Regions from separate parts of the Homo sapiens genome. Here all the other regions are reported to be linked to region 6. The links are microRNA targets in miRTarBase. Many come from high-throughput screens and were not tested one by one. Region 6 holds a microRNA gene; each other region holds the end of a gene's coding sequence.
What was found. The annotated mature microRNA hsa-miR-3941 reads UUACACACAACUGAGGAUCAUA and lies in region 6 at 1,448-1,469, opposite strand. An mRNA with a match to its seed (bases 2 to 7 or 8) in the 3' UTR can be bound and repressed. Matches are read on the target gene's strand: a 7mer-m8 pairs with bases 2 to 8, a 7mer-A1 pairs with bases 2 to 7 and ends in A, and an 8mer does both.

Region 1 (4,323 bases), not on the chromosome of region 6:
GAGAAGAGGAGGTACAGGATGTAATGGAGGCTTAATAGGACCCTCTTGGCTGCTGAGTCGAGAACAGACTGGAGCAAGCAGGGACAGCCAAGCGAGGGGCGAGGTGACAGTGACTATCAGGTCAAGGGTGGAAGTAGTTGCCAGGGGCAGGAGGCGGATTCTGGACCTTGGAGGAGGTAAAGCCCACCAGAATGTGTCGGTGGCTTGGATGTGGGGTGTGAGAGGAACCAGAGATTCTGCCTAGGTTTCTTCTTGGGCAAGTGAACACGTGGAGTCCACGTAGGCTGTGTTCGGTCCGAGATGCCTTCTAGACATGCAGGATGTCAAGGAGGCAGCTGGAGAGATGGGTCTGGAGCTCACAGCAAGTCCAGGCTAGAGGTAGAAACGTGAGAGCCCCACGGCTGGGGAAGATTGCCATGGGATTGGAGATGAGCTCCAAGGACAGCCCTGGCAGTCTGGATGGAAGAGCTTGGGAAGATGCTCAGAAACCACAAAGTGGCTGGTGCGGTGGGAGGAAAACCAGAGTGTATGCTGTCCTAGAAGCAAAAGAAGAAAGTGTTTCAGTGTTTCTAGGAGCAGGAAGTGATCAACAGCCTTAGATCCTCCTTTTAGGCCAAGTAACATGAGGACTAAGAATTGACCACTGGATTTAGCAATGCAGAGGTCCTTGTGGCCCTTGATGTCGGCAGATGAGGGCAGTGTGGTCCAGAGATGAGGCTTGGGGCTGAGATGCAGCCCCGCTGCCTGGTCCAGCTCCTCCCTCATCCAGGCAGGGCTCCCCCGCCCAGCAGCCACTCCCCTCCCTGCCTGCTCATGGCCCCCTGCTCTCCCTTTCCTCCCCATACCCCCAGACCTGTGCTTGCCCGGGGAGAGTCAGGGCTCTCCTGTCAGCTGGGTCCCCTCCCAGCCCCGGGAGGCCGCCACTGGAGCCCTGCCTCTTCCTGGCAGGGAGCATCGAGTACAGCTGTCCGGCCTCCAACGAGTGTGAGATCACCAAGCGGAGACGCAAGGCCTGCCAGGCCTGCCGCTTCACCAAGTGCCTGCGGGTGGGCATGCTCAAGGAGGGTGAGCGCTGGGCAGGGGCTGGGCGAGGGCTGGGGGAGTCGGGGACCCGGGCCAGGTGGGGGTGAGGCCTGGGAGTTCTGGTGAGTGGACTCGGGGAGGACAGCTCTGGAGAGCAAGCCCCACCCTGCCCACAGCACCACAGTCACAGTCCTATCTGTCCCACAATTCAAGGAGTGCGCCTGGACCGCGTCCGGGGTGGGCGGCAGAAGTACAAGCGGCGGCCGGAGGTGGACCCACTGCCCTTCCCGGGCCCCTTCCCTGCTGGGCCCCTGGCAGTCGCTGGAGGCCCCCGGAAGACAGGTGAGAGCACTGTGGGTACCTGGGGCTACGAAACCGGAGGCCTATGTGTGGCATCATAGTTACCTTGGGCACTGGGACCTGTATTTCCCCTTCGTCTCTTCACTCACTCATTTCCCCAAGACATGTGAAACTGCCTTTTCCTGCATCAGGAAAAGTAGTAGAACTGGGAACAGGGACGATTTTCCAACACTCACAGCCTGTCCACAAACACACGGGCTTTCCCTGGGAGACAGTTAGCGCTCTTCCCTGGAGGGAAGTCACTGGACAGCTGCTACTGAGGAAGGCCACAGGGGGAGCCACTGTGGGAAGATGCTTGACCCCTGAGGCCTGACAGATTCGAGTGCTCCTGACTCTTGTCCTCTAATTGTCACAGCAGCCCCAGTGAATGCACTGGTGTCTCATCTGCTGGTGGTTGAGCCTGAGAAGCTCTATGCCATGCCTGACCCCGCAGGCCCTGATGGGCACCTCCCAGCCGTGGCTACCCTCTGTGACCTCTTTGACCGAGAGATTGTGGTCACCATCAGCTGGGCCAAGAGCATCCCAGGTAAAGGGCCCAGGTGACCCGGGGCTGCCCTGAACGGGCCCGGCTCTGGTGCGCTTGCTCAGCCAGGCCCGCTCCCCGCTGCCCCCTAGGCTTCTCATCGCTGTCGCTGTCTGACCAGATGTCAGTACTGCAGAGCGTGTGGATGGAGGTGCTGGTGCTGGGTGTGGCCCAGCGCTCACTGCCACTGCAGGATGAGCTGGCCTTCGCTGAGGACTTAGTCCTGGATGAAGAGGGGGCACGGGCAGCTGGCCTGGGGGAACTGGGGGCTGCCCTGCTGCAACTAGTGCGGCGGCTGCAGGCCCTGCGGCTGGAGCGAGAGGAGTATGTTCTACTAAAGGCCTTGGCCCTTGCCAATTCAGGTGAGTCTGGGGCAGGCACTGACAGGTGAGGTGTCTCCGTAAGGTCTTCAGGTTAACTCAGTGACGGTAGCACAGCCCCATTTTGCAGATAACGAAAACTGAGGCTTAGGGAAGAACAATGACTTGCTAGAAGTCAAAAAGCAAGCCAAGTGCAGGCTCCAAACTGCACACAGGATTTTGAGCCCTAGTGCCACACTAATGCAGAAAGGTCATTTAGTGGGAGGGAAGGTGGGGAGGGTACAAGGTGGCCACAGTTGAGGGAGAGAGGGTGGGGTCCTGGCCCACGAGCCGCAGCAATGAGTGGTGCCTCTCAGTCAGCCAATCAACAAATCCTCGTTTGGCTCTTCCTTAGGCCCCATCCAGCAGTGCTCAAGATACGGGGAGTGCCCTTGCCAGAGATAGCCCAGGCCAACACCACATTCCTCTCTTCTTGCAGACTCTGTGCACATCGAAGATGCCGAGGCTGTGGAGCAGCTGCGAGAAGCTCTGCACGAGGCCCTGCTGGAGTATGAAGCCGGCCGGGCTGGCCCCGGAGGGGGTGCTGAGCGGCGGCGGGCGGGCAGGCTGCTGCTCACGCTACCGCTCCTCCGCCAGACAGCGGGCAAAGTGCTGGCCCATTTCTATGGGGTGAAGCTGGAGGGCAAGGTGCCCATGCACAAGCTGTTCTTGGAGATGCTCGAGGCCATGATGGACTGAGGCAAGGGGTGGGACTGGTGGGGGTTCTGGCAGGACCTGCCTAGCATGGGGTCAGCCCCAAGGGCTGGGGCGGAGCTGGGGTCTGGGCAGTGCCACAGCCTGCTGGCAGGGCCAGGGCAATGCCATCAGCCCCTGGGAACAGGCCCCACGCCCTCTCCTCCCCCTCCTAGGGGGTGTCAGAAGCTGGGAACGTGTGTCCAGGCTCTGGGCACAGTGCTGCCCCTTGCAAGCCATAACGTGCCCCCAGAGTGTAGGGGGCCTTGCGGAAGCCATAGGGGGCTGCACGGGATGCGTGGGAGGCAGAAACCTATCTCAGGGAGGGAAGGGGATGGAGGCCAGAGTCTCCCAGTGGGTGATGCTTTTGCTGCTGCTTAATCCTACCCCCTCTTCAAAGCAGAGTGGGACTTGGAGAGCAAAGGCCCATGCCCCCTTCGCTCCTCCTCTCATCATTTGCATTGGGCATTAGTGTCCCCCCTTGAAGCAATAACTCCAAGCAGACTCCAGCCCCTGGACCCCTGGGGTGGCCAGGGCTTCCCCATCAGCTCCCAACGAGCCTCCTCAGGGGGTAGGAGAGCACTGCCTCTATGCCCTGCAGAGCAATAACACTATATTTATTTTTGGGTTTGGCCAGGGAGGCGCAGGGACATGGGGCAAGCCAGGGCCCAGAGCCCTTGGCTGTACAGAGACTCTATTTTAATGTATATTTGCTGCAAAGAGAAACCGCTTTTGGTTTTAAACCTTTAATGAGAAAAAAATATATAATACCGAGCTCAAAAACACTGTGTTTGGTGTCATTGGGTCAAGGGTTGGGGATACACACGGCAGAATTCGGAAACAGGGTATAGATCAACAAAAATACACAGTCATAACAAGAAAAACTGGCGCCTGGCACAATCAACTCTCAGTTTCCTCTTCACTCAGCAGCATGTTGGGGATCCCGCGGCTGATGGGGAACATACGTCCAGATTCCGGGCACTGCAGGGTGCCCTCTATCACTTCCACCTGCGGGCAGGGAGGGACAGAGCTGAGCACTGGCAGCCTCAGTGCGGGAGGCAGGTGGCCCGGGAAGCAAGTGATGGGCCGCTTCTCACCTCCAGCAGCAGGTGGTGCATGGTCCTCAGAAACTCCTCATTCTCCTCATATCCCTCAACCGGCCCTTTCGGCACCTGGATCAGACGCAACTGTGGGCAAGAGGCCAAAATTATCTCCGGGCATCCCGAACTCCCGCCTCAGCCCGGCTGAGGTGTGCCCGCCCCGCATTCCCCGGGATATGCTGGGGCGGGGTAAGGATCCTCACGTTATCGGCCGCCTCCAGGAACGCCGACCACTCCACTTTAGGTATCATACGCGCCACGAAGT
Region 2 (4,571 bases), not on the chromosome of region 6:
GAGCACTGGGGGTTTGGTAAGATTGAAGCACTTACTAACATTACAGGCAGGATTTGAAAACAGATCTATCTGATGCCAGAGCTTTTGTGCTTAACCAGTAATCTAGTTGACATATTTCCTCTTTTTCCAACATCATAGCCATCACCTGATTCATGCAACTATATTAAAATTTACATTTTTATGCAGAACTTTATTATTCAGTTTCTGGATAGACGGCTTTCCTATTTCCTTGGACTTAGAGATGAGAATGCCAAAGGTCAGTGGCGTTGGGTGGACCAGACGCCATTTAACCCACGCAGAGTGTAAGTATATTGAGTGGGCTAAGGGGATTTATAAGCAAAGGTTAGAAGATGGTAGCAAGAAACATTCATTTTGAAGTGGAGTACATTGATATAAAAATGTTAAGAGAGACCACTGTAGGTTGAGTAATCTCCATATGCTATGTCCCAGTTCCAGAATGGTCCTATAATTTGCATGCAATTTTCAGTATTCTTATTTGCACAATGTCAATAATGAAAGAATGAATAGCATAGAAGTGATATAAAATTTGTTTTAGGCTTGACATTTAAATAAACAATATAAGCGATAAAAATTTTCTTTGAAAGAGAATCAAAATCTTGTCATTTTCTTTCTTGAAGCCAGTATCGTTTAGTAAAAATATAATGCAAAGCCACATGTGCAATTTAAAATTTTTTGTTAGTTATATTAAGAAAGTAAAAAGAAGCAAGTGAAATGTATTTTAATAACGTATTAATAATGTATTTAACCCAATATATCCAAATCTTATCATTTCAACATGTGATCATTATAAAATTATTACTGAGGTCTTTGACATTCTTCATTGGCACTAAGTCTTCAAAATACAGCACTTAAGACTTAAAGCACATTTCAATTCAGAGAAGCCACATTTCAAGTGCTCAGTAGCTACATGTGTCTAGTGAGTATAGTATTAGTGCAGTTCTAAACTGTTCACTAGGGACATTTCTCTGAATTGTCTCCTAATATATCTATATCTAATCTACACCTATAATCTACATTGTCTATATATACCTATAAATCTCTATCTATGTTGTTGTTCTTTCAGATTCTGGCATAAGAATGAACCCGACAACTCTCAGGGAGAAAACTGTGTTGTTCTTGTTTATAACCAAGATAAATGGGCCTGGAATGATGTTCCTTGTAACTTTGAAGCAAGTAGGATTTGTAAAATACCTGGAACAACATTGAACTAGAAACTCAGAAAGTGGTCCTTGTGATGGAAAGAGAAAAGAAAAACCAATTAGAATAAGGCAGAATGTACGTGCGTCATTGGAACACAGAAAACATGCTGGTTCATACAGCGTTTTTAGTCATAATGGTCTTTTTTATTTTGTTTGATTCATTCGAGACAACATGTGTGTATGTGTGTGTGTGTGTGTGTAGATAATGTGGTTTTTGTATGGTGTTTGATGGAAGGAATAATCTTTCTTTGCTTTCTTAGTAGTATTTCAAGGTGTTTACTTTTCAATTGGTGTGCACTGAATGCATGTATGGAAGAATAGCGTGAATAATGCAATCTCTTTGTCATTTTTCCCCTTCTCAGACTCTTAGCTCTTAAAATTCAAAGATGGGATATTCTAACTGGTAGTGGTGCATCATTTTTAACCCAAATATTGCAAGCACTTTAAAGATTTGAAACCACATTTTTATTGTTTGATGTTTCATTTTCAGACTTTTTAATGTCAGTCATTACAATTACATTGCATGAGGAAAATTTTTCCAGAACAACAGTGTGGAATAGTTCTGAATTATGCTGTTCTACAGATAGAAAAAAAGTCCAAATGCCTTTAAAAATTTACTTCTTACTCCACCCAACACGTTTTTGCAAAGCAAGAAGTCTTTGTAAGACACCTTAAACAAAGTCCTTCAATTCTACAGCAGAGGAAATAAAATCCCCCAGAAGCCAAAGGGCTCACCTTCACATTGTTAGTTCATGACAGACCCAGGTGTGCTTCATTAGAGATAACATACATTCCCTTTGGTATCACAGGAAGTTACTGGGGATTACTCGACCTCATTACTTAGCTAACGACTGGATAAAATTTCTTAATTGTTTGAAGTAACATTGTATTCGTGTTTGCATTATTAATTTGAATAGAAAATAATCACATTTTCAACCCATTTATACAAATTGTTAATGTTTCTTTAGAGCTGTATAACTATAGTTTGAACTAGCAAGGAAGTTATTGTTTTGACAACCAGAAATTATGCTTTTCTGGTGCATGAAACATTAATTGCAAAGGGCAGTCACATCCAACTTTAATAAAATATGGTGGTCTTTCTTAAAATTTTCAATTTGCTAATTTTTCCTGGATCTAAGCTGAAAAATTCCAAGCAACAGCTTTTTAACCTAACTTTCCTACTACTGCTTTTAAAAGCAGTATTTATTTTGTAAATTAGCTACTGATTTTTTGGGTTTGAAATACTGGTGTTTGATTGTGTGGTGGTGGTGGTGGTGATGGATGCGTGTAGCTGTGTTAAAAGCTGATACTTTTAGCTGAAATGGTGCTAAATAAATTTGACTGTGTTTGCCATATTCACTAAATTATGTAGCATGAAACCTATGAAACTTGTTGAAGTAACTTTATGTAAATGCTAGTGGGCTTCGTATAGTTAATATTATCCATTTTTAATTTGTAAAGAACTATATATAGGTTGAGCTTCAGTTGTCAATAAGTCATGAAGTTTTGCCCATGCCTGTGTCCTGAATGGTATTACCTAGGTTTTCTTCTAGGGTTTTTACGGTTTTGGGTTTTACATTTAAGTCTTTAATCCATCTTGAGTTAATTTTTGTATAAGGTGTAAGGAAAGAGCCCAGTTTCAGTTTTCTGCATATGGCTAGCCAGTTTTCCCAGAACCATTTACTGAATAGGAGATCCTTTCCCCATTGCTTGTTTTTGCCAGACTTGTTGAATATCAGATGGTTGTAGATGTATGGTGTTATTGCTGAAGTCTCTGTTGTGCTTCATTGGTCTATATGTCTGTTTTGGGACCAGTACCATACTGTTTTGGTTACTGTAGCCTTATAGTATAGTTTGAAGTCAGGTAGCATGATGCCCCCAGCTTTGTTCTTTTTGCTTAGGATTGTCTTGGCTATACAAGCTCTTCTTTGACTCTATATGAAATTTAAAATAGTTTTTTCTAATTCTGTGAAGAATATCAACAGTAGTTTGATGGGAATAGCATTGAATCTATAAATTGCTCTGGGCAGTATGACCATTTTCACAATATTGATTCTTCCTATCCATGAAGATGGAATGTTTTTCCATTTGTTTGTGTCCTGTCTTATTTCTTTGAGCAGTGGTTTGTAGTTTTCCTTGAAGAGGTCCTTCACATCCCTTGTTAGCTGTATTCCTAGGTATTCTATTCTCATTGTAGCAATGGTGAATGGGAGTTCATTTATAATTTGGCTCTCTGCTTGCCTATTGTTGGTGTAAAGGAATGCTTACGATTTTTTCACATTGATTTTGTATCCTGAGACTTTGGTGAAGTTGCTTATCAGTTCAAGAAGTTTTTGGGCTGAGATGATGGGGTTTTCTAAATATAAAATAATGTTGTCTGCAAACAGAGACAACTTGACTTCCTCTCTTACTATTTGAATATGCTTTATTTCTTTCTCTTGACTGATTGCCCTGGCCAGAACTTTCAGTACTATGTTGAATAGGAGTGGTGAGAGAGGACATCCTTGTCTTGTACCAGTTTTCAAAGAAAATTCTTCCAGCTTTTGCCCATTCAATATGATATATTGGCTGTGCGTTCGTCATAAATAGCTCTTATTATTTGAGATACGTTCCATCAATACTTAGTTTATTGAGAGTTTTTAACATGAAAGGATGTTTAATTTCATCAAAGGCCTTTTCTGCGTCTATTGAGATAACCATGTGGTTTTTGTCTTTGGTTCTGTTTATGTGATGGATTATGTTTATTGATTTGCGTATGTTGAACCAACCTTGCATCCCAGGGATGAAGCTGACTTGATTGTGGTGGGCAAGTTTTTGATGTGCTGCTGGATTCAGTTTGCCAGTATTTTATTGAGGATTTTCGCATCAATGTTCATCAGGGATATTGGCCTGAAGTTTTTTTTTTGGTTGTGTCTCTTCCCAGTTTTGGTATCAGGATGATGCTGGCTTCATAAAATGAGTTAGGGAGGAGTCCCTCCTTTTCAATTGTTTGGAATAGTTTCAGAAGGAATGGTACCAGTTCTTCTTTGTATTTCTGGTAGAATTCAGCTGTAAATCCATCTGGTCCTTGGCTTTTTTTTTTTGTTTGGTAGTCTATTAATTGCTGCCTCTATTTCAGAGCTCGTAATTGTCTATTCAGGGATTCAACTTCTTCCTGGTTTAGTCCCGGTAGGGTGTATGCATCCAGGAATTTATCCATTTCTTGTAGATTTTCTAGTTTATTTGCTTAGAGGTATTTATAGTATTCTCTGATGGGGGTTTGTATTTCTGTGGGATCAGTGGTGATATCCCCTTTATCATTTTTTACTGTGTCTGTTTGATTCTTCTCTCTCTTCTTTATTAGTCTAGCTA
Region 3 (4,527 bases), not on the chromosome of region 6:
TTTGAAGATGAGGATTTGAGAAATCCCAACTCCTAAAGTAGGGGAGAGACAGCAGCAGAATATGACCCACAGCCAGACCCAAAGGGGCTAGCCCGACCCCTGTATATATTGTACCTCTCTCTCTGCCCACCTCTCCCCCACTTCTCCCCACTGCCCCATTCTCTCTTATCCTGCCTATTCCTCTCCCCTATTTCTCTGTCTCTCTCTCTCTCACATACACACACACTCACTCACAAGCAGTACAGTCACTAAGTTGGCTAGGTAATATCCAAAGCATTCTGATTGTCCTACTTTTTGTAAATTGAACTTATTTAAGATATTTTAGAAGAGATGAGTCACGTCTTCCTTTGACCCTTCACCCATAACACACATACCATTCTCACAGGAGGCCACATGGTGCAGTAGAGTCAGACTTTGATTCAAAGCCCAACTCTGTCACGTGACAGTAGGCTTGAGTTTCCTCATCTGTAAAAAGGGAAGATTTCCTACTTCATAAAGTGGTTGGAGAAATTAAAGAAATAGTATATGAAGCCTTGCACATAAAAAGCATTTGATATATATTAATGCCCTTTTGCACAAGAGGTCAAGAATTGCTTGGGTTCTACCTAGAAATCAAGAGCCTTATTTCTGAGCTGGGTTACTTGGCACCTGTGTTATTTCTCTCTCAAAACTACATAATGGTAGGAGGAGTAAAAGAAAAAGTCCCCGCCTCCCAGAGAAATTGAAGGATCCAGAAAGAAGTGCTTATAGCAGGGAATGTCTCCCCTCACCTCCTGTATGAACATCTCTCTCCTTCCTCCAGTATAGGAGGGTCTGCAAAGCTAAAGGAAGAGTTCCTTTGTTACAAGATAGAAAAGTGGTGCCACTTTAAAGATGATTTCTCAGTGTTCTCCTTAGATACCAAATACAAAGGACGAGGGATCAAGCTCAGCGAAAGTATCAGGCATTTAAGGTATCAGGCAGCAATGCGGGGAAAGGTGAATTTTCTTCAATCAGCATAGGATGGTTAGGGAAGAGCATTTATCACTTTGGTTCTTATCCTTCAAGCCAGGGGAAAAGCAACAGTGAGGACATCAGAGACAAAAGCATTTATAGAACTAACAAACACAAACGTTTGACAAGTGAGAAAGCTTTATTAAAGCACACATACATGTCAGGGGGGTGGGAAACAAAAGAGCAAGTTACAGCCCGGGATCCCAAGTTATGCCTTCCATTACAATTGCAATCCACACCAAATCAATCTTTGAAAACATTCCTCCATTCGGTTCATACATACAGTAGAAACCACTGTGGCTGCCCTTAATCCAGTGTGCTTATAGGAAATCAGTTAGCAGCTGACTCTGTTGAAAGGGATTTCCTCTCTGCTATACACTCCTTCCACACACAACTTTGGGTAGAAACGCTTATGAGAATAGAAAGGTCAGTTTGATCAATGAGTACCAGAAGATGAAACTTAGCTCACTAGACCCTTCTTTGAAAAGCCTCAACACACTACACCCATGTAATATGTAGGTCAAATTTAGGAAACAATAGCAAAAACAGGAACTGAAAGCTCATCAAGCAGGAAGTCAGAATAACAGGGAGACTCTGTCTACATTCCCTTAGAGCCCTTAACAGTCCCCAGCCTGGAGAAACACTGGGCCAATTGAGATAACACTTGGCTCTTCTGGTTGACACAGTGGGATGTAGACCATGCTCTGTTTGATAACACACCCCAGACGCAAACACTAAGACAGATGTGGTACATGAGGATGAATATATCTCATCTTTCATTCGAGAAATGAGGAGCTCTCTCTCCAATGACTGCAGTATCAGTTTAAAATGCAGAAAATTCAGCATGGGCTGTGAGACACTTTACCCTCAGTCACTCTGGTCCTCTGAGATCAGCTAGAAGCTCTCACTGGGCATCCTCGTGATTTAGTCAAAATACATTATCTAATTAAAGTGCTTTTCAAAAGCAGCTCCATTATAAGAGTCCCCCAAAGGTCTAGTAAAGATATCTAGAACTGGAAAAAGCTTGGGAATTCTGTTAGCATTTCAAAGAAAAGCATTAGACCAAAGCAAGGTGGAAACTGCTTAAAAACTAGAAAAGTTAAATTTAAAAGCCAAGTTCCAGAAGTTTATCCAGGTAGAAAATAAGTTAAAAGCATAAATTGGAGAGGAGAAAGAGGAAGGAACTACTCACCTCTCCCCAACATTCCTGTCTTTACTAACCAACCCTGCTTCCCAGAGCCTTAAAACCCAGACTGGTCCTAATGCGAAAGGTAGCCAGGGCTTCCTAGGGAAGTAGGAACAATGATAGCAAGACAGAAGATAAAAAGTTGTTTTAAAAGCTGTTTTTAAGTTAAGTGAACCTTATAAAGACATAAGAAAAAATGGACTCTGAAAATAAACTAGATTATACACAGAAACATTTTAAAGAAATGCTTATTCTTGAGACTGCTTTAAAAAGAAGAACAAGTCTGCATCACTCTAGCCAGCATAATGAGATTTGCAGAAAATACATGTTTGTACACATACACACACACACACACACACACACATACACACATACACACATACACATTAAATTATAAATCTTTGCTCTTGATTTCTTCACTTCCTCTGACCTGCCCTCGCCAGGGCTGGACCTGCAGAAGAGGACAGGGACTCATAAACCCAGCTTCTGCTTGGCCATTGAGGAACGGAGCTGCAGAGTCCCTTCTGCCCAAGACCCTGGGTACTGTCGCATCTTCTGCCACAGGCTCACTTCTTCCCCAGTCGAGTCCATCCAGTCCACCACTTCCCCATTACTGATCCCTGAGGAGAAACACCAGAAGAGGCTAAAGAGGGGCCCCACTCTCAGCCCACCAGGGAAGATGGGTTGTACAGCAAGATTAGCCACCCCATAACAGTTTCCTACGAAGATGGGCTAATGGCCACAGCAGTCTGGGAAGTGCTCCCTCACCTGTATTCCTGAGACTCTGTCAAGAGACTCTGGGTTGATGAAATCAGACTCCAAATGGCACACAGTCACTAGAGACTTCTTATTCTGAGGCTGTTACAGAGTTCTAGTGCCTGACAACTCATGCCAGAGCTATTGCCAACTGTACTTAAACATTTTTCTTTTATTATTATTATTAATTTGAGACGGAGCCTCGCTCTGTCGCCAGGCTGGAGTGCAGTGGCACAATCTTGGCTCACTGCAACTTCTGCTTCCTGGGTTCAAGCGATTCTCCCGCCTCAGCCTCCAGAGTACCTGGGACTACAGGCCTGCGCCACCACGCCCAGCTAATTTTTTTGTATTTTTAGTAGAGACGGGGTTTCACCATGTTGGCTAGGATGGTCTCGATCTCTTGACCTCGTGATCTGCCTGCCTCAGCCTCCCAAAGTGCTGGGATTACAGGTGTGAGCCACCGTGCCCGGCCAACTTTTTTCTTTTAAAGCTAAACACCTCTCCTCTAGCTGCAGACTCCAGGTCAGAAGTGAGGATCGTATGTGGCCCCATTCATATTCTCTTATATATTCATCCATTAATTCAGCAAACATTTATTGAGTGCCTACTGTGTGCCAGGTACTCTTCTAGGCTCTAGAGACACTAGTAAACAAAGCAGAAAAAGTCTCTGTCCTCAGGCAACTTTCATTTGAATAGGGAAGACAGAAAATATACAAGCAAACCAATAAGAGTATTTCAGACAGTGAGGTTAACATTATGATGTAAATAAACAGGGTGATGTATAGTGACTGACTCAGGAACTACTGTGCAGATGGAGTGGTCTGAGGACTCTCTGAGAAGGTGACATTTGAGCCAAGACCTGAAGGATAAGAAAGAACCAGACTTTCCATTCAGAGAAAACAATAATTGCAAAGGTTCTGAAGTGGGAATGAGCTTGGTATATTTGGAGAGCAGAAAGTCATTTTGGTTGAAGCATAGTGAGCAAGGGGAAGAGTGATACAAGACGGATCAGAAAGGAACAGAGGACCCAGGTTACACAGGGGCCTGTAGGCATGTTAAGAACTTTGGATTGTTTTCTAAGCACAACAGAAAGCCACTGAGGGGTTTTAACAGGGGACTGACATGAATTGGCTTACATGTGTAAAAACATCAGTCTATATGCTTCATGTTAAATATTCTGTGTGATTATTAATATATAAGTATATTAATAGACAAGTGCAGAGACTAGGGAGAGGGCAAAGAAGAGGATCCGAGACTAAGCTCTGCCAAGCACCAACATTTAGAGTTTGGGTATAGAATGCAGCACCTACAAAGAAAACTGAGAAGGGGTGAGCAGTGACTTAAAAGGGAATCAGAATGCAGTGTCAATAGAAGTTCAGCGTTTCAAGCGAAAAGGAGTGATCTAGCATGTTAAATAGTGCTGAAAATTCTAGTGAGATGAGAACAACACTTTGGCAAGAGCAACTGCTCAGCAGAGTGGTGGGACAAAAGCCAGATCACAGTGAAGGAGAGCTGAAGGAGAGGTGAGAAGTGGAGACAATTCTTTCTAAGAAACTAGAAGGGGAACGTGTAGTCAAGGAAAGGTTTGTTTT
Region 4 (4,571 bases), not on the chromosome of region 6:
GAAACTTAAAGATGATAATTCTCAAATTGTATTTTAAGGTGTATATCTTTTACCACTTAAAACGGCTCATGATGCTGACCATGATTTTATACGCCTGCTGGAGAACTAAAGGAGTGTAACTGGATATTTCATAACACAAAGATAAATGCTTAAGCAATGGGTAGCCTTTCTTCATGATGTGATTATTTCACACTGCAGCCTGTATCAAAACATCTCATGCACCTCATAGAAAAATACCCCTACTATGTAACCACAAAAACTAAAAATTAAAAGAAAATAAAATTGCTCATATGTTCTCTGCCTCAAATAATTAACTTTCTCACCTGACCCTCCATTGTTACTTTAAAAATATTTGTCAATTATGAAATTCCAATTTAAAAGCCAAACTTTCTATGATGACTCAAATTAAAATACACACATTCTATGTCAATTCTATGACATTTACTTTGAATGATCTGGCACTTTAAAAACCTTTCGTGGACTTGATGTGCTCAGGCAAATTAACTTACCTTCTCTTTTTTTGAGAGGGAAGTCTCACTCTGTCACCAGGCTGGAGTGCAGTGGTGTGATTGTGGCTCACTGCAACTTCCGCCTCTTGGGTTCAAGCGATTCTCCTGCCTCAGCCTCTCAAGTAGCTGGGACTACAGGCACATGCCACCACGCCTGGGTAATCTTTTTTTTTTTTTTTTTTTTTTTTTTCATATTTTTACTGGAGACGGGGTGACGGGGTTTCACCGTGTTAGCCAGGATGGTCTTGATCTCCTGACCTCGTGATCCGCCCGCCTCGACCTCGGAAACTGCTGGGATTGCAGGTGTGAGCCTCCGTGCCTGGCCAAATTAACTTACTTTCAATGTTGATACTTTTCTGCTTATCGTTTAGATATAAAGAGAATGCTATGAAATTATCAAGAATTCATCATGATCAACCAGTGAAGCCCCTTGATCGAGCAGTCTTCTGGATTGAATTTGTCATGCGCCATAAAGGAGCCAAGCACCTTCGGGTTGCAGCCCACGACCTCACCTGGTTCCAGTACCACTCTTTGGATGTGACTGGGTTCCTGCTGGCCTGTGTGGCAACTGTGATATTCATCATCACAAAATGTCTGTTTTGTGTCTGGAAGTTTGTTAGAACAGGAAAGAAGGGGAAAAGAGATTAATTACGTCTGAGGCTGGAAGCTGGGAAACCCAATAAATGAACTCCTTTAGTTTATTACAACAAGAAGACGTTGTGATACAAGAGATTCCTTTCTTCTTGTGACAAAACATCTTTCAAAACTTACCTTGTCAAGTCAAAATTTGTTTTAGTACCTGTTTAACCATTAGAAATATTTCATGTCAAGGAGGAAAACATTAGGGAAAACAAAAATGATATAAAGCCATATGAGGTTATATTGAAATGTATTGAGCTTATATTGAAATTTATTGTTCCAATTCACAGGTTACATGAAAAAAAATTTACTAAGCTTAACTACATGTCACACATTGTACATGGAAACAAGAACATTAAGAAGTCCACTGACAGTATCAGTACTGTTTTGCAAATACTCAGCATACTTTGGATCCATTTCATGCAGGATTGTGTTGTTTTAACTGTTGTTGAGGAAGCTAATAAATAATTAAATTGTATAGAAAGTCTCTTCCTCTTGATATTTTGAGATGATTAGTGCTGCTTGGCTTTTATTGTGCATCGTGCTTCAACGTCATTTTTTTTCCTAAAAGGTATGATAAAAATGCTTACCATTTTAGAGCTTAAGTCATTTCCCAGTGAAAAGTATGTGGAATTAGAAATATAGCAACTCCTACCTGGTTTCTACTACAAAATGAACTAATTTTACAATGCGTTTGGTTTTTTGAGCCAATTCTATTTTTCTGTTCATTTGAAAATATTCATCTTTTTTTATTCTTTGTTTTTTAGGTATTTCAATAGCTTTTGGGTGACAACTGGTTTTTGGTTACATGGATAAGCTCTTTAGTGGTGATTTTTCAGATTTTGGTGCACTCATTACTCAAGAAGTATACACTGTACCCAGTGTGTACTGTTTTATCCCTCACATCCCTCCTACCCTTCCCTCTGAGTTCCAAGAGTCCATTATATCATTCTTATGCCTCTATGTCCTAATAGCTTAGGTCCCCCTTATAAGTGAGAACATACATTGTTTGGTTTTATATTTCTGAATTACTTCACTTAGAATAATGGTCTCCAACTCCATCCAGGTTTATTTTGTCCATTTTGATGGCTGAGTAGTGTATATATATATATATAATATATGTGTGTGTATATATATATATTCCCCAACTAGTGGCTAAAGTAAATGTGATATTTATATATAATATATATTAGATATATATAATTATATATGTATGTGTATATATATATAATTATATATGTATGTGTATACAAACACACACACACACACACACACACACACACACATATATATATATATATATCTCACATTTTCTTTATCCACCCATTGACTGATGGGAATCTAGGCTGGTTCCACAGTTTTGCAATTGTGAATTGTGCTGCTATAAACATGTGTGTATATGGGTCTTTTTCATATAATGACTTATTTTCCTCTAGATAGATGTCCAGCAGTGGAATTGCTGGATCAAATGGCAGTTCTACTTTTAGTTATTTAAGGGATATCCATATTGTTTGCCATAGTGGTTGTACTAGCTTGCATTCCCACCAGCAGTGTAAATGTGTTCCCTTATTACTACCATGCCAACATCTATTATTTTTGGATTTTTAAACTATGGCCATTCACCATTTGTATATCTTCTTTTGTAAATTGTCTATTCATGTCCTTAAGTCACATTTTGAGGGATTATTTGTTTTTGTCTTGCTGATTTGTTTCAGCACTTTGTAGATTGTGGATATTAGTCTTTTGTGGGATGTGTAGTTTGTGAAGATTTTCTCTAACTCTGTGAGTTATCTGTTTACTTTGCTGATTATCTCTTTCGCTGTTCAGAAGCTGTTTAGTGTAATTGAGTTCCATCTATTTAACTTTGTTTTGGTTGCCTTTGCTTTTGGGTTCTTGGTCATGAAGTCTTTGCCTAAACAAATGTCTAGAACAGTTTTTATGATGCTATCTTCTACAATTTTTATACTTCCAGGTCTTAGATTTAATTATTTGATTCATCTTGAGTTGATCTTTGTATAAGGTGAGAGATGAGTATCCAATTTCATTCTTCTACATGTGGCTTGCCAATTATCCCAGCACCATTTGTTGAATAGGTTTTCCTTTCCCCATTTTATGTTTTTGTTTGCTTTGTCAAAGACTAGTTGGCTATAAGTATTTAGTTTTATTTCTGAATTCTCTATTCTGTTTCATTGGTCTACATGCCTGTTTTTATACCAGTACCATGCTGTTTTGTTAACTATAGCCTTGTAGTATAGTTTGAAGTCAGGTAATGTGACACTTCCAGATGTGTGTTTTTTTTGTTGTTGTTGTTTGTTTTTTTGCTTAGTCTTACTTGGGCTATGTGGACATCAAAGCTGAGAATCAAATAAAAACCTCAACCCCTATTAAAGCATCTGCAATAATAATAATAATAATAAAATAAATACTTACAAATATACTTAACCAAGAAGGTGAAAGTTCTCCACAAAGAAGACCACAAAACACTTCTGAAATAAATCATAGATGATGCAAACAAATGGAAACACATCCTGTGTTCATTTGTGGCTTGAATAAATATTGTGAAAAAGACCATACTACCAAAAGCAATCTATAAATTCAATGTAATTTCCATTAAAATACCATCATCTTTATTCACAGAACCAAAAAAAAATTCTAAATTTCTTGTGGGTTCTATTCTCATTTTTCACCTTTAATGACAAATGTTAAGTTCTTAATTTTTGGTTGTAATAATATAGGAATTTCATTATGAAGGGATTAAGTGTATTTTTAATCTTGCTAAACATACATGTACATATACATGTCCATTTTTTTAAAATAAGACACTGCATCATTTAGTTACCTAATAGATAGGTGGTAAAATTCAATGTGTTTATTGAAGACAGTTTGAAATAATAATTATATTCCACATACTATACTTCAAATAATCATCTCTAATTTTTCTCTTTTTCCACAGGGTCTTTTGATCCATTTCTTCTCTAAATATAAAATAGAAGCATGAAATCTTTTAGGATGACAAAAAGTGTACAAAGTATACAATGAGTTTATAAATTTTGTGGAAAATAGCTAAATCAAGCCATAAACCTTCTTTAATATACACATCAGGGAAGCACTTTATGATAAAAGTGGTCCAGATGGACAAAAACTTAGTTGTCTTTGCTGGTAAGAAGCCTTACTATTTACTAATTATCACACAAGTATTCTCCAGTCTAAGGAATGATTTAAATATAAATATTATATATATATATTTCACTACATATGTATATATATTTATATATGTATATATAAATCATGACTATATATATATATATATACACACACACACAGTATAACATTGATGCTAGAGAAATTATAGGAAAAGTTTATAACAGAATATTTCATACAAATCATCCAGGAACTGATACATATATAAAGAAACACAGAACT
Region 5 (4,571 bases), not on the chromosome of region 6:
GTTCAAAGACAACAAGGTGTCTGAATGACTCAGCATAATGCTCTCTCTCCTCTCCCCCTTTCATTTTCTCCTTTCTCCCTCTCCTGTCCCCATCTCTTTCTCTTTTTTTTTTTTTTTTTTTTTTTACCTTTCAGAAAACCACAGCTTTTGGACCCTAAAAGGTCTGGATTGATCGTACTGCTTTCTGAAAGGTAAAAAAAACAAATACTTTGGGAGGTGTGAAGGTTGGCTTTGTGGGGGACAGCAGGTTCATCTTGTAGCTCATTGCTGTCAACTTATGCCATACCATATGTATTTCAGTTTAATAACGGGGTGCAAATGTTTTGGTGTTGTATACACAGATGAAGTTAAGTCTCACCTAGGAAATGTCTGTTTCTAACAGTTGGGGTGAGAATCAGCAGTAAAAACCAGGTATATGGTAGCAGCTGGTCTAGAGGAAAATAAAAGCCCTTGGCTCCAGCCCTTTGTACAGGCCTTTAGTTTAGGGTCAGTCTCTCTGGAAATCTTGAGATTTTTATTGCTTCCTCACTGGTTACTTTTTAAAAATTCCCCAGTCAGCTTTCTACTTTTCAGAGCTTATTTCAGATTTAAGAGTTATCCTTGTAAAATTGATTTTTAAACCATTGCTTCCTCCTGGCATGAAATTTTGGAGAGAAATGTTATACTGACTGGGTATTTTATTGCTTAGTAAAGACATCAAAGACTTGGGGATTTTATGAAACTTGTTTCAAAGTATGTTGACAGTTGTATTTGATGAGTTTGACTATTGAGTTGAGGGTTTAAGTCCTATCACTGCTTTTAAAAAATTATTAGGGAGAACAACCAAAGATGAGGAAGTATGCCTGTATTTTGGGGTGGGGTTCACCACTGCATTAACCTCTACTGACTGGAAGATGCAGTCAACAATGAGGTACTACTGAGTATGGAAGTTATAGAAGGAGTTTCGTGGAAATGAGTGAGACAGGTTTTTCTATGAAAGTAAAAGTGGGGGAGTATATTTAAAGATAATTTAAAATAAACTTGAGCAAAGTAAAAAGAAAATAATACACCAATAATTTGGAACATGAGCTAAATTTTTTTTTCTTTTTTAGAAAGACAACAAAGTTGCTGCATAGTCTACAAACAAGTCTCTGAAAATAGGTGAATTTCTAGCTCTTCATGGTCCTGAACATTGATTTCAGTCTTTGCAAAGAATGAAGAAGTGAATTCGCTGTACATTTGTCACCAGCACTGGGTTTTTGTTTTTTGTTTGTTTTTCCGCTTAATTTCAAAGATAAAATGCAGTTACTTTTGGGGGTGGAAGGCTCATCTTAAAACATGAGCATTAAATATATTTGGAATAGCAGAAGGTTAAGTAATTTCTTATGTATAGTTAAACTAAAGCAGTACTTCAGTGGGACTTAACAAGTATTTTTTCATCACTGAAAGGTTTTTTTTTTTTATCACTAAATTGTATTTGGCAATTGCAAGTTGCCTGCAGATAGGGCCGTGATACTGTGTTTTGAGCCACAGAAGGTTGTGTGTGTGTGTGTGTGTGTGTGTGTGTGTGTGTGTGTATGTGTGTGTCTTTTTCCTCCTTTCTTTTGGGGAATCCTGTAATATGAGGTAGCTTATTTCGTCAATTAATTAGGGTGCTGGATGGTAGAGAATTTTGTCAGTCAACTATGTACACACAGTAAATACTGTTTCTTAGGCAAAGGTAACTTTTTTATATAGTTGTAAAATTCCATTATATTCCATTGCCAAAGAAACATTAAGAACTTTGTATAGCTGTATAAAAAGCAACTAATTTTTTAAAGAATAAACATTTTAAAGTCAGCAAACATACTGTGTCCTTGCAGAAGTTGATGTGCTGAGCAGCAGCCTTATGGGTGGGTCTTTTTTTCTTAGTTTTCCAGGCTTAACATTTTTGATTTTGTTTTTTAATGTTTGGAACATAAATGAAGATTTGATACATTATTTCATTATCTAAAAAGGATTAATTATTCATGCTCATTGTAAGAACTTCATTTTGTAGCAAATGGCATATCACAGGATCTGTCCAGATAATCGATATTTTCAGTATACAAATGTAAATAATCACAGATGAGAATGTACTTAGCTGTATTTTCAAATAAGTAATCTTCCCCCCTTTTGTAGGACTTTAAAACTAGGCATCAATGAACCTGTTTTTCCTATTATGCCTGGAATTTAGTCATGATACCTTGACTCATTCCATCATATTTCAAGAGGATTCAGAGTGCTAGAAATTATTTTGGTAGCCTGTAACACACGGCAACACTGGTCCTTGGGCCTATGATGACCCACAGATGACTCAGTATAGAGTTCATTGCTAATTATAAATTACTAGTGAATCTTTTTGATATTTTAAGCTCTAGTGGGAAAAATCTGGCCACTTTTGTGTTTTTATGAAGGCCATGGAATAAAAGGATCCAAAGATTTAAATATTTTTATCTAATATTTTGATTGTTTTCTTAACTTTCTCCTTAAAACATTCAGTAGTGATAAAGATATAGAAACTGCACTGTAGGAGAATTGGAATATTTAAGGCTGGTTGACATTTTTTATTTTCATTTTATATCTTTTGTATAGCTCTACAAGGCAGTGTTTTGTAATTTGGTTTCATTATGAAGATCCAGTACTTGGCAGCCATAGTTTAGACAATATTGTTCAGTGCTGTTTGCTTGCATGTTAACAACAAAACCTTTTAGAGGACCCACAAATCATGATATTGAACACAGTTCCGAGGCATTCAGAGCATCAGAGCAAGTACCATGGCAATACATGTGTAGACTGTTGGAGATGTCCCGGGCCAATTTCAAGAAAGAAAACTGTAAATACTAGTTCTACTTGCTCTGAAATTATGAGTTTATGCGTTTTCCCAGCCCTCCGAATCACTGACTGGGGCGTTTTGTGCCCCAGCAATAACTGGCAGCATGGCATACCTGCAGTACCCCTTACAATATTAAAGCAAAGTTTTTATTCTAAAACAGAATAAAACTGTTCAATAAAAAATGCTCGTCAAAGTTCTTTCTCTTTAAATAGTAACATTCTGTTTCAGTAGGAACATAATGAAAGGAATCTTTTAAATGGAAGAGCGGAATTATAATGTTTGTATTCCCTGTAATAACTATAAATCAGTTACTTTATTTCTAAGATTGAGTTATTGTTGCAGATGTTTAGGGAAAGCTAAAAGCCCCTTCCTTCCCCTCCTGTGTGTAAATAAAATACTTCTGAGATCAGATCCGTGACATGAGGAGATTGAGCCACCCAGGCACAGGCCAGGCTGGAAACAGCAGCCAGAACACACTCCCTGTGGGCAGACGCATGAAGAAGATGCAGAATCTGTCTATTAAAACAGTTCGCTCCAAAAGCTGGGCTTCATGTGATGGTAGGGCAAGAGGTCGGGAACAGCAGTGCAGCACAGTGGCTCTCGGTGGGGTTACCTGACATCCTAGGAACACAGTCATCTGTTGCTTAATAATAGCGACATGTTCTTATTTTTAAATAGCAATGAGGTCTCACTTCGTTGCCCAGGCTGGTCTCTAACTCCTGGGCTCAAATGATCCTCCCATCTTGGCCTCCCAAAGTGCTAGATTACAGACATGAGCCACCAGGCCCGGCCATGACACATTCTGAGAAATGTGTTAAGCAATGTCATCATTGTGTGAACATCAGAGAGTGTACTACACAAATGAAGATGGTATGGCCTACTCCACACCTAAGCTATATGGTGTAGCCTGTTGCTCCTCGCTACAAACCTGTACAGCATGTTACTGTACTGAATACTGTAGGCAGTCATAACACAGTGGTATTTCTGTATTTAAAACATATCTAAACAGAAAAAGTATAGTAAAAATACGGTATCATAATCTTTGGGACCACCATTGTATACCCAGTCCATCGTTGACCAAAACATCATTAAGTGGTGCGTGAGTACTGAGGAATGTGAGGGGATGTGTTTTGGTTGTCACAATCACTGGGGATCACCACTGGTATTTAAAAGTAAGGGCCCGGATGGTAAATGTCCTGTGCTGTGCCACACAATCAGTTGTCCAACCCAAAGTGCAGTAGTGCTCCTCTACTCTGAGAAACACTGGCTAAAGTCCCTCCACATGGAAAGACAGTAAGTGGGAAATTATTTCCTGCCAACTTGAAAAAAAAAATTTACTACTTAGGAAATTGTCCGCTTGGGAATATTAATAATAAAGGGAACTTACTTCCTGTAGCACATCAGCATTGTGGAAACATTACCACATAGGAGTTAGGGCTTCATCCTGTTCTCTGTCAGTGCTTCACAAATCTCTGATCAGAATCTACCAAGGAGCATTTTTAAGTACAGATTCCCAGGCCCAGAGAGTGATTCTGAAGTTCCCTAGTACAGCAGAACCCAACCTTTTTGGCACCAGGGACTGGTTTCACCAAAGACAGTTTTTCCACAGATGAGCAGGGGGTATGGTTTTGGGGTGATTCAAGTATATTTATTGTGCACTTTATTTCTATTATTACATTGTAATATATAATGAAATAATTACACAATTCACCATCATGTAGAATCAATGGGAGGCCTG
Region 6 (4,390 bases):
TACCTATTTTAGTAGATAGGTACTTTGAAACTATGTAAATATCTCATTCCTCATCATATATACAGATATACATTCATTCACCAAAAAGTATTGTTTCTCTGAAAAGACTTGGCTTCTATTATACTTAATATAGTTCCTGATTTTATAAATCACTGTGTATGTGACCATTCTCCCATCTCTGCCACCACCCCTTCCCCATGTGGATGCCCTTCTCTCCCTACTCCACGTGGGGCTAACCCCCCAAGAGGACAGCCCCTTTAGAGGAAATTTATAGACTAGAGGATTCTGAGATCTTCAGATCTTTCAAGGTGGAATGCTGCTTTGAAGATAGGATCTTTTTACTTAAAAATGTATTTAAGAAAAATATCATTAACCAAAAGCATCACAACCAAATAAACTATATTTACCTCTAAAAACTAGACTTATTCTGAAACTACAGAACAGTACAAGAAATTATATATAATCACTACATTGCAACACTTTTCAAACATTCTTATAGCAACATTTATGACGTAACAACATACCAGTTCAGATTTGAAGTAGCCTATTGTGTTTTCATCCAATTGAAAATATCTTCTCTTCCAGTTTTTCATCTACCAGAGATGAACACAGACATAAGACTTGTGTTTCTAAGAATGTCAAATGTTAGTCACCACTTAATTACCCTGATATGAACCCACAATCAGACATGCCAAGCAGTGAAAAATCTCATTACTTCCCTTAGAGATGCGATAAATTAAACCTCATCCCTCTCTAGCTACCCAGGCTTTGAATTCCTAATTCAATTTCTGGTGCCTGGCTTTCATCTTTTATTGTATGATTTTATGTGTTTTTTTTTTTTTTTTTTGAGACAGAGTCTTGCTCTGTCACCCAGGCTGGAGTGCAATGGCGCGATCTCGGCTCACTGCCTCTGCCTTCTGGGTTCAAGCAATTCTCCTGCATCAGCCTCTCGAGTAGCTGGGATTACAGGCTCCCATCACTATGCCCAGCTAATTTTTGTATTTTTAGTAGAGACAGGGTTTCACCATGTTAGTCAGGCTGGTCTCAAACTCCTGACCTCAGGTGATCCGCCCACCTTGGCCTCCCAAAATGCTGGGATTACAGGCGTGAGCCACCATGCCTGGCCTATTTCATATTTTTAATGTTGAAACTTTTTTTTTTTTTAAAAGCACTTCCCCTTCCTCCTACTCCTCGCCCCCGCCAACCCCATGTAAAGAGCAAACACAGGAAATGTTATTAAACCACATCAAGTTTCTCCATCTGTAAAAACATATGAATTCTTCCACAAGTACTTTATACATAGTAGTAAAGCACTAAATATTTAATAAAGTAAACCTATTTTGTACAAATATTTTTTGTCAATAAAATAACAGTTTTTGCAGAAGCACTTAAATATCTCTGACTGGTATTTTGGACTTAAGAGTAAAACAAAAAGGAACCATCAGGCTATGATCCTCAGTTGTGTGTAAAATTAGGGCTTTCAATCTACACACAACTGAGCATCACAGCCTGATGAGAATTCTGACTCTACCTGCAGACATTGTACAGTAAGAAACCCCTGCCCTCACCATCATTTTCCTCAGCCTAAAGCAGGTCAAACAGGTGAAAGGACATTCCCCTGGCTGCCCTAAAAAAATTAAGAGTTGCCAAAAAGTGATGAGAAGTCAAACAGAACCACCAAAATAATTTTAAGTATTTCTTTACTCACAGACTTAAAAAACATTTTCAAACTTTAAAGTTAATTTTCTCATGAAATTCTAAAGATTTAGTTCACATAGAAAGAATGGCTTAGATACTAAGGTATGTTGCAACCTTAGAAATATTGGTAAATTTACTTGCTCTTGCAAAAAATTCATCATGGAACTGATTATATGGGAATACCTGGGCTAACCCATAACAGCTTTTACTAAGTACCAGGTGCTGTGCAAAGGGAAACACACCTTTCTTATTTACATCTCTTAAAAAACAAAAACAAAACAAAACAAAACCCTAGATGGTAGGTTTTATATGATATTCCTTAAGACAGAAACTGAGGGCCTGAGAGGTTAAGTAAGTAGCCCAAGGTCAGAGAGCTTACCACGGAGGTCAGGCCAATGCCTAAACAAGGAAGAGACCTCCTAGGCACCACTCCTTCTCCTGCCGCTGGCCTGCCATCTCCCCACAACAGCTCTCTTTCCCTGACCCACTCCTGAGTATGAGTAAAGATGAATAGAAACACTTTCTAAAACATTAAACTGTTAGGAAAGCTCATTTAAACTGAAAGTCAGTGGTAATGGGCATTAACTTTCCTGGCCCCCTGCAAACCAAGCAAATAACAGCATTGAATTATAAACAGAGAATATCCCCTATTTTATCTCCTGACTCTCCTCAGCATGCCGGTCTCTCACTTTGGGTCTTTCATAAAATAAAGCAAACAATTTCCATGTTAATTTGAGTTTGCTAGAACGTAATCCTTTTTCATTATTTCATGTATTTTGTTAAGCTACTCACCACTGCTCCTTGTTTTACACAATATCCAGCTTTGATAACCGCACTATCTTGAGGTGGTTTAGGAGTAAAGTAAGGAAGATGGCTTTGTGACCGTTTCAGATTATTTCTGTCAATACTTTCACCACATTCATTTACTTCTTCTTTCTAAAATGAAGCAAAATAAATAAATTATTTTCTTGCTTGTTTAGCATACTTTTATTTCATATTATCCCAGTAGAAAATCTTAAAATCCACCTTAGATTAGTCAGAAACAGATTTTTGAAGAGTTTTCTAATTAATCTGAGATACTTACTCTTAATTTTCCTGTCACTGATTAAAGCACAAATTTCCATTCCTCTTGTTTTGCACAAGTCCTGCCACCAGTGCTCTTTTTTGGGGAAGGAGTTAACTTTTTATTTTGAAATAATTATAAGGATTCACCAGAAGCTGCCCAAAAAAAGTACAACAGGTCCTATGTACCCTTTCACTAGTTTCCCCTCAAAGGGAAACGGCGTAACATTATCAAAAAACAAGAAATGGACATTGGCACAACCCACAAACTTTATTCGGATTCCACCAGTTTTACATACATTCATCTATGTGTGTCTATACAGTTCTATGCAGTTTTATCACATGTGTAGATCTGTGTAACTACTACCACATTTAAGACCCAGAATTGGTCATCACCCCAAGGCTCCTTTGTGAACTTTAGAGTTCCTACCCCTAAATCCCCTGGCAGCCACTAATCTGTTCTCCAAGACTATAATTTTGACATTTTGAAAATGTAATGTAAATGGAAGCATACAGAAGGTTATCTTTTGAGATTATCTTTTTTCACTCAGCATAATTCTCTAGAGATTCGTCCAGACTGTTCCTTGTATCTAGAGTTCATTCCTTTTTATTGCTATATTTCCATGGTATGGATGGATGACCAGTTGTTTAACTGTTCACCCATTAAAGGACATTTGAGTTGTTTCCCACTTTTAGCTATTAGGAAAAAAGCTGCTATCAACATTCATGCACAAGTTTTTATGTGAATGTAATTTTCCCTTTCTCTACGATAAACACCTAGTCCTGCAAATGCTGGGTTGTACAGTAATCACAAGCTTACTTTTATTATTAAAAAAAAAACAAAACATAAACACTAAACTGTTTTTCAGAGTGGCTAATTTTCATTCCCACCAGCAACACCTGAGAGATTATGTTTCTCCTCAACCTTGGCAGCATTTGTGTCGTCACTTTTATTTCAGCCATTCTGAGAGGTGTGCAGTGATCTTTTATTGTGCTCTTAATTTGTATTTTTTCCCTGCTAGCTAATGATGGTGAACATCTTTTCATGTGCTTACTTACCATCTGTTTATCTTTTATCTTTTGATGAAATATCTGTTCATGAATTTTCTAATTGGATTTCTTGGGCTTTTTACTGTTGGGTTCTGAGTTCTTTCTATGTTCTAGATAAAAGTCCTTTGTTGGACATGTGGTTTGCAAATATTTTCTCCCAGTTTGTAGCTTTTCTTTTCATCCTCTTAAGAAGGTCTTTCATAGAGCAAGTATTTTTTATTTTGATGAGGTCCAATTTACCAATTTTTGCCTTTTATGATAGACATATATTATTTTATAATTTTTAAAACTATACTACAAAATAAATGATGCAATAAAATTATACCCTCCATAAAATCCTAGAAACTACTGAAATATCTATACCAAAATTACAATGCAACAAAATCTTAACTCTAGACAAAATTAAAACAGCCACAGATACAAACTAATACAGTGTCTTAACACAACTACAGGAAAATAGTCTTACCCCTTATGTCAACATAGGTCATAATACCAGTGAAAGAAGCTTAATCTAGGTACATAGTAACCAGAAGGTTAACAGTTTAAAATCATTACTTTTGGAAAAAGTAAACACACAATC
Region 7 (3,000 bases), not on the chromosome of region 6:
GAAAATTAGATCTCTACCACCAGCTGGCTGGGTTACCTGGGAGTACATCTTTTAACCTCTTGGTGTCTGTTTCATCATCTGCAAAATAAGCAAGTTATGTTAGAAAAATCTAAAATAATGTGTTTTAAGTAGCTAACTTCAAATGTTTTTATTAGGAATTTTCTAAGTTAAGTAAGTGGATCAATGGATAGATGAGGTAGTTTTAAAAAAAACTCTGCTACCTAAAATATTTCCTTTGTTTTGTTTTTTACAGCTTCCAGCAAGAAATGCATCCCTGATCCTATAGCTATTGCATCTCTCTCCTTTTTGACCAGTGTCATCATCTTTTCCAAAAGCAGAGTATAAAGAAATCTTGTGGCTCCTTTTATTTAAAAAAAATATTTAAATAAAATCTTTTTTATTGGCCTTTTGGCTAGAAATGGACATTTATTTTCCAGGAAGGATGATCCCATCATACTTCTGCTGAAACCAGTGCATGGCCTCCTCTTTGCTAATTCTCTTATGCCTTTCCTTGTACCCCTTTGCCTTATTTCAATCTGGGCACCCTAAGTACTCTTGGGGAAATCACTCTGCCCAGCTAGCAACTGATGCAGAGCTGGCTCAGCCCACTGACTGTGATTGGCCTGTAACTCAGGCCTTAGCCAATCAGTATATTTCTTCTTCATGGACACAAAGATTCATGCTGGAATAGAAAATGATCCAATCAGAGCCTGTGAGATACAATCAGGGTACTTTTGTGGAATTGCAATTGGAAATAGAATGGGAGCTTCTTTTCTGAATGGATATTAATGAAAGCAGGGTAGGAGCTTATAGCTGCCAGCAAAGATCCCGCCACCAGGAGAGGAGACCCCATCTCCTTGAGAAAGGATCTAACACAACAAAGGAAGAGCTGATAAGTGAAAAGAAACTGAGACCTGATGAGAATGTATAAGCCTCTGGATCCAACTTTGCCTAAAGCTGAATACTACAAGATTTTTCATTACATAAATCAATAATTTATGTTTTTGCTTGCATAATTTGAATTAGATTTTCTATGTCAAGCATCAAGCAGTTGAAGTTCCAACGAATACAAGCACTCTTCCTTATTTTTTTTAATTTAGTTATTCTAAATAGGAACAAATCAAAGAAGATTAAATTAGAAAGCAAAGGACAAATTCTTCACCAAACAGAAAAGCTTTGAACCCCAGAGATTAACCAAGGTGTGAATTTTCTTCAGAGATTTTTTATGAGCATTCAAGATTAAGCTAGTATGGCCTCAGATGAGAAGACACATGGAAACTTGAGAAATAAAAGGGAAAGTTAATGAAAGATGTTAGTGAAATTTCATTCACCAGCAGTAATGGGTGTTCATGCATGTTCCTAAGACATTACAAAAGTTAAAATTTAAACTCATATGTTAATTCATAGAGAACTTGATGGCAAATTTAAGTCTTCATAGCAAATTTAAATATTAGGAAAACATGAGGGTATGTGTGAAGGTTAACAGAGAGTATGAGAGAAAAAAACACTGATTACAAACAAATATCAGCAATATAGCGAGGTCTCATTACATGTAAACTAGTACATGCAAAGAAGTATAAATTGTTGAATTGTATAGCTGGAAATGTCCTCTAACGCTTCCCTCAGGTAGTAATTTAGGTAGCGACATAAGGGATTATTTAACCCGATCACGATCACTGAAGACCCTGGTATCAGGCTAAATGGAGTAAAGATGAGGGCTAGCTCTATAATTTTGGATTTTGAAAGTCCATGCTCCTTATCCCTTTTAAGATTTGGATAAGAAACAGCAAAACTGAAAATCGGTCCATCTATTTACTCTCCATAGGACTTCCTGAATGGCCTGTGTCATGATCAAAGAAATGGAATGGGGAATAAGCTACATAAAATTACCTGGCAGGGAGTTCAGGCATCTCTGTACTATCATTCTTTAAATTGGGATTTGAAACTAACAGGGCCAAATCACCTCTGTCACCTAGTTGCAGTAGCCTCTACAGTCAATAAAGGAAAGAATTTCTGCCAGGCATGGTGGCTCACCCCTGTAATCCCAGCACTTTGGGAGGCCGAGGAGGACGGATCACGAGGTCAGGAGTTCAAGACCAGCCTGGCCAGCATGGTGAAACCCCGTCTCTACTACAAATACAAAAATTAGCCAGGCATGGTGGCACGCACCTGTAATCCCAGCTACTTGGGAGGCTGAGGCAGGAAAATTGCCTAAACCCAGGAGGCGGAGGTAGTGCAGTGAGCCAAGTTCACACCACTGCACTCCAGCCTGGGCAACAGAGTGAGACTCGATCTCAAAAAAAGAAAAAAAGAAAGAATTTCTACAAACAGACAATTTATGTGACTTGCATAGGATAGGGTCTTTGGCAGTTTGGTGGCTACCTAGTAGAGAGTCCTGGGGACATGGCTCTGGGAGCAAGCTTTTCCAGTGAGCATCGATGAGTCAGTAATGACATGCTATGTTGGTAAAAGCCACCCAACATCTTAAGTACATTTTTCCTGTGCCATATAAATGCATGTATTGAGCCATACTGTGTACAAAGCACTTTGGGGATTAAAAGTTAAGAACACTAGGCCAGATCTCTCATGAGTTTACAATCTCTTAGGAGAAATTAAGAACATAAAGCAAGCCACAAGTGAAATGCCAAAAAAAAAAAAGGCAAAAATCAAGTTTTCTGTTCATAACAATTCAAAAGAAAGATTTCTTCCAACTGAGGCAAGAAGAGACACCCGGAAGGCTTTAAGTAAGAGGCTGCATTTGAACCAGCCGTTAGGGCTCTAGGCTGGGAGAAGGGGTGAGCAGAAGGAGAAAAAAACAAGAAAGAGTATGTGCCAAGTGCGTAGTGCCCAAAACAAGGCCAAATATTAAATGCTTGGAGCTGAGAGAAAAATGTGATTCCTCTGGCCTATGGTTAGATAAAGCTTTCTATCAGAGATGATGTTTTACTTAGAGGAAAGCAGAAAATAGAAGCGAATACGGAATGATCGATGTATGTACAG

Region 1: miRTarBase lists TRMT112 as a target of hsa-miR-3941. Seed matches in the 3' UTR shown: 7mer-m8 at 3,778-3,784.
Region 2: miRTarBase lists CLEC4D as a target of hsa-miR-3941. Seed matches in the 3' UTR shown: 7mer-m8 at 1,395-1,401 and 7mer-m8 at 1,415-1,421.
Region 3: miRTarBase lists SYTL4 as a target of hsa-miR-3941. Seed matches in the 3' UTR shown: 7mer-m8 at 2,552-2,558, 7mer-m8 at 2,544-2,550 and 7mer-m8 at 2,518-2,524.
Region 4: miRTarBase lists UGT2B4 as a target of hsa-miR-3941. The part of its 3' UTR that is shown has no 7-base or 8-base seed match.
Region 5: miRTarBase lists LSM14A as a target of hsa-miR-3941. Seed matches in the 3' UTR shown: 7mer-m8 at 1,551-1,557.
Region 7: the mRNA of ART4 is a reported target of hsa-miR-3941. The part of its 3' UTR that is shown has no 7-base or 8-base seed match.

The regions. Positions count from the first base shown.
Region 1 is chr11:64,313,003-64,317,325 of GRCh38, forward strand. TRMT112 (tRNA methyltransferase activator subunit 11-2) reads right to left here. Exons shown (of 4, transcript NM_016404.3): 2 at 4,262-4,323; 3 at 4,056-4,145; 4 at 3,458-3,966. The coding sequence ends at 3,859. It overlaps ESRRA (estrogen related receptor alpha), which reads left to right. Exons shown (of 7, transcript NM_004451.5): 3 at 949-1,065; 4 at 1,237-1,365; 5 at 1,739-1,909; 6 at 1,999-2,268; 7 at 2,705-3,741. The coding sequence ends at 2,964. Among named protein-coding and RNA genes, the nearest start is that of TRMT112, 2.4 kb to the right of the region's middle. RefSeq lists an enhancer at 3,061-3,576.
Region 2 is chr12:8,520,040-8,524,610 of GRCh38, forward strand. CLEC4D (C-type lectin domain family 4 member D) reads left to right here. Exons shown (of 6, transcript NM_080387.5): 5 at 187-302; 6 at 1,085-2,327. The coding sequence ends at 1,232. Among named protein-coding and RNA genes, the nearest start is that of CLEC4D, 8.8 kb to the left of the region's middle.
Region 3 is chrX:100,673,378-100,677,904 of GRCh38, forward strand. SYTL4 (synaptotagmin like 4) reads right to left here. Exons shown (of 20, transcript NM_001370165.1): 20 at 1,114-2,799. The coding sequence ends at 2,651. It overlaps SRPX2 (sushi repeat containing protein X-linked 2), which reads left to right. Exons shown (of 11, transcript NM_014467.3): 11 at 1-2,411. Among named protein-coding and RNA genes, the nearest start is that of SRPX2, 31 kb to the left of the region's middle.
Region 4 is chr4:69,477,220-69,481,790 of GRCh38, reverse strand. It overlaps UGT2B4 (UDP glucuronosyltransferase family 2 member B4), which reads left to right. Exons shown (of 6, transcript NM_021139.3): 6 at 881-1,626. The coding sequence ends at 1,157. Among named protein-coding and RNA genes, the nearest start is that of UGT2B4, 16 kb to the left of the region's middle.
Region 5 is chr19:34,226,274-34,230,844 of GRCh38, forward strand. It overlaps LSM14A (LSM14A mRNA processing body assembly factor), which reads left to right. Exons shown (of 10, transcript NM_015578.4): 10 at 1,092-3,015. The coding sequence ends at 1,115. Among named protein-coding and RNA genes, the nearest start is that of GARRE1, 26 kb to the right of the region's middle.
Region 6 is chr10:122,414,103-122,418,492 of GRCh38, reverse strand. MIR3941 (microRNA 3941) reads right to left here and starts at 1,528; the gene lies at 1,426-1,528. It overlaps PLEKHA1 (pleckstrin homology domain containing A1), which reads right to left. Exons shown (of 12, transcript NM_001001974.4): 7 at 2,491-2,634; 8 at 525-593.
Region 7 is chr12:14,826,716-14,829,715 of GRCh38, reverse strand. It overlaps ART4 (ADP-ribosyltransferase 4 (inactive) (Dombrock blood group)), which reads left to right. Exons shown (of 3, transcript NM_021071.4): 3 at 254-3,000. The coding sequence ends at 345. Among named protein-coding and RNA genes, the nearest start is that of SMCO3, 14 kb to the right of the region's middle.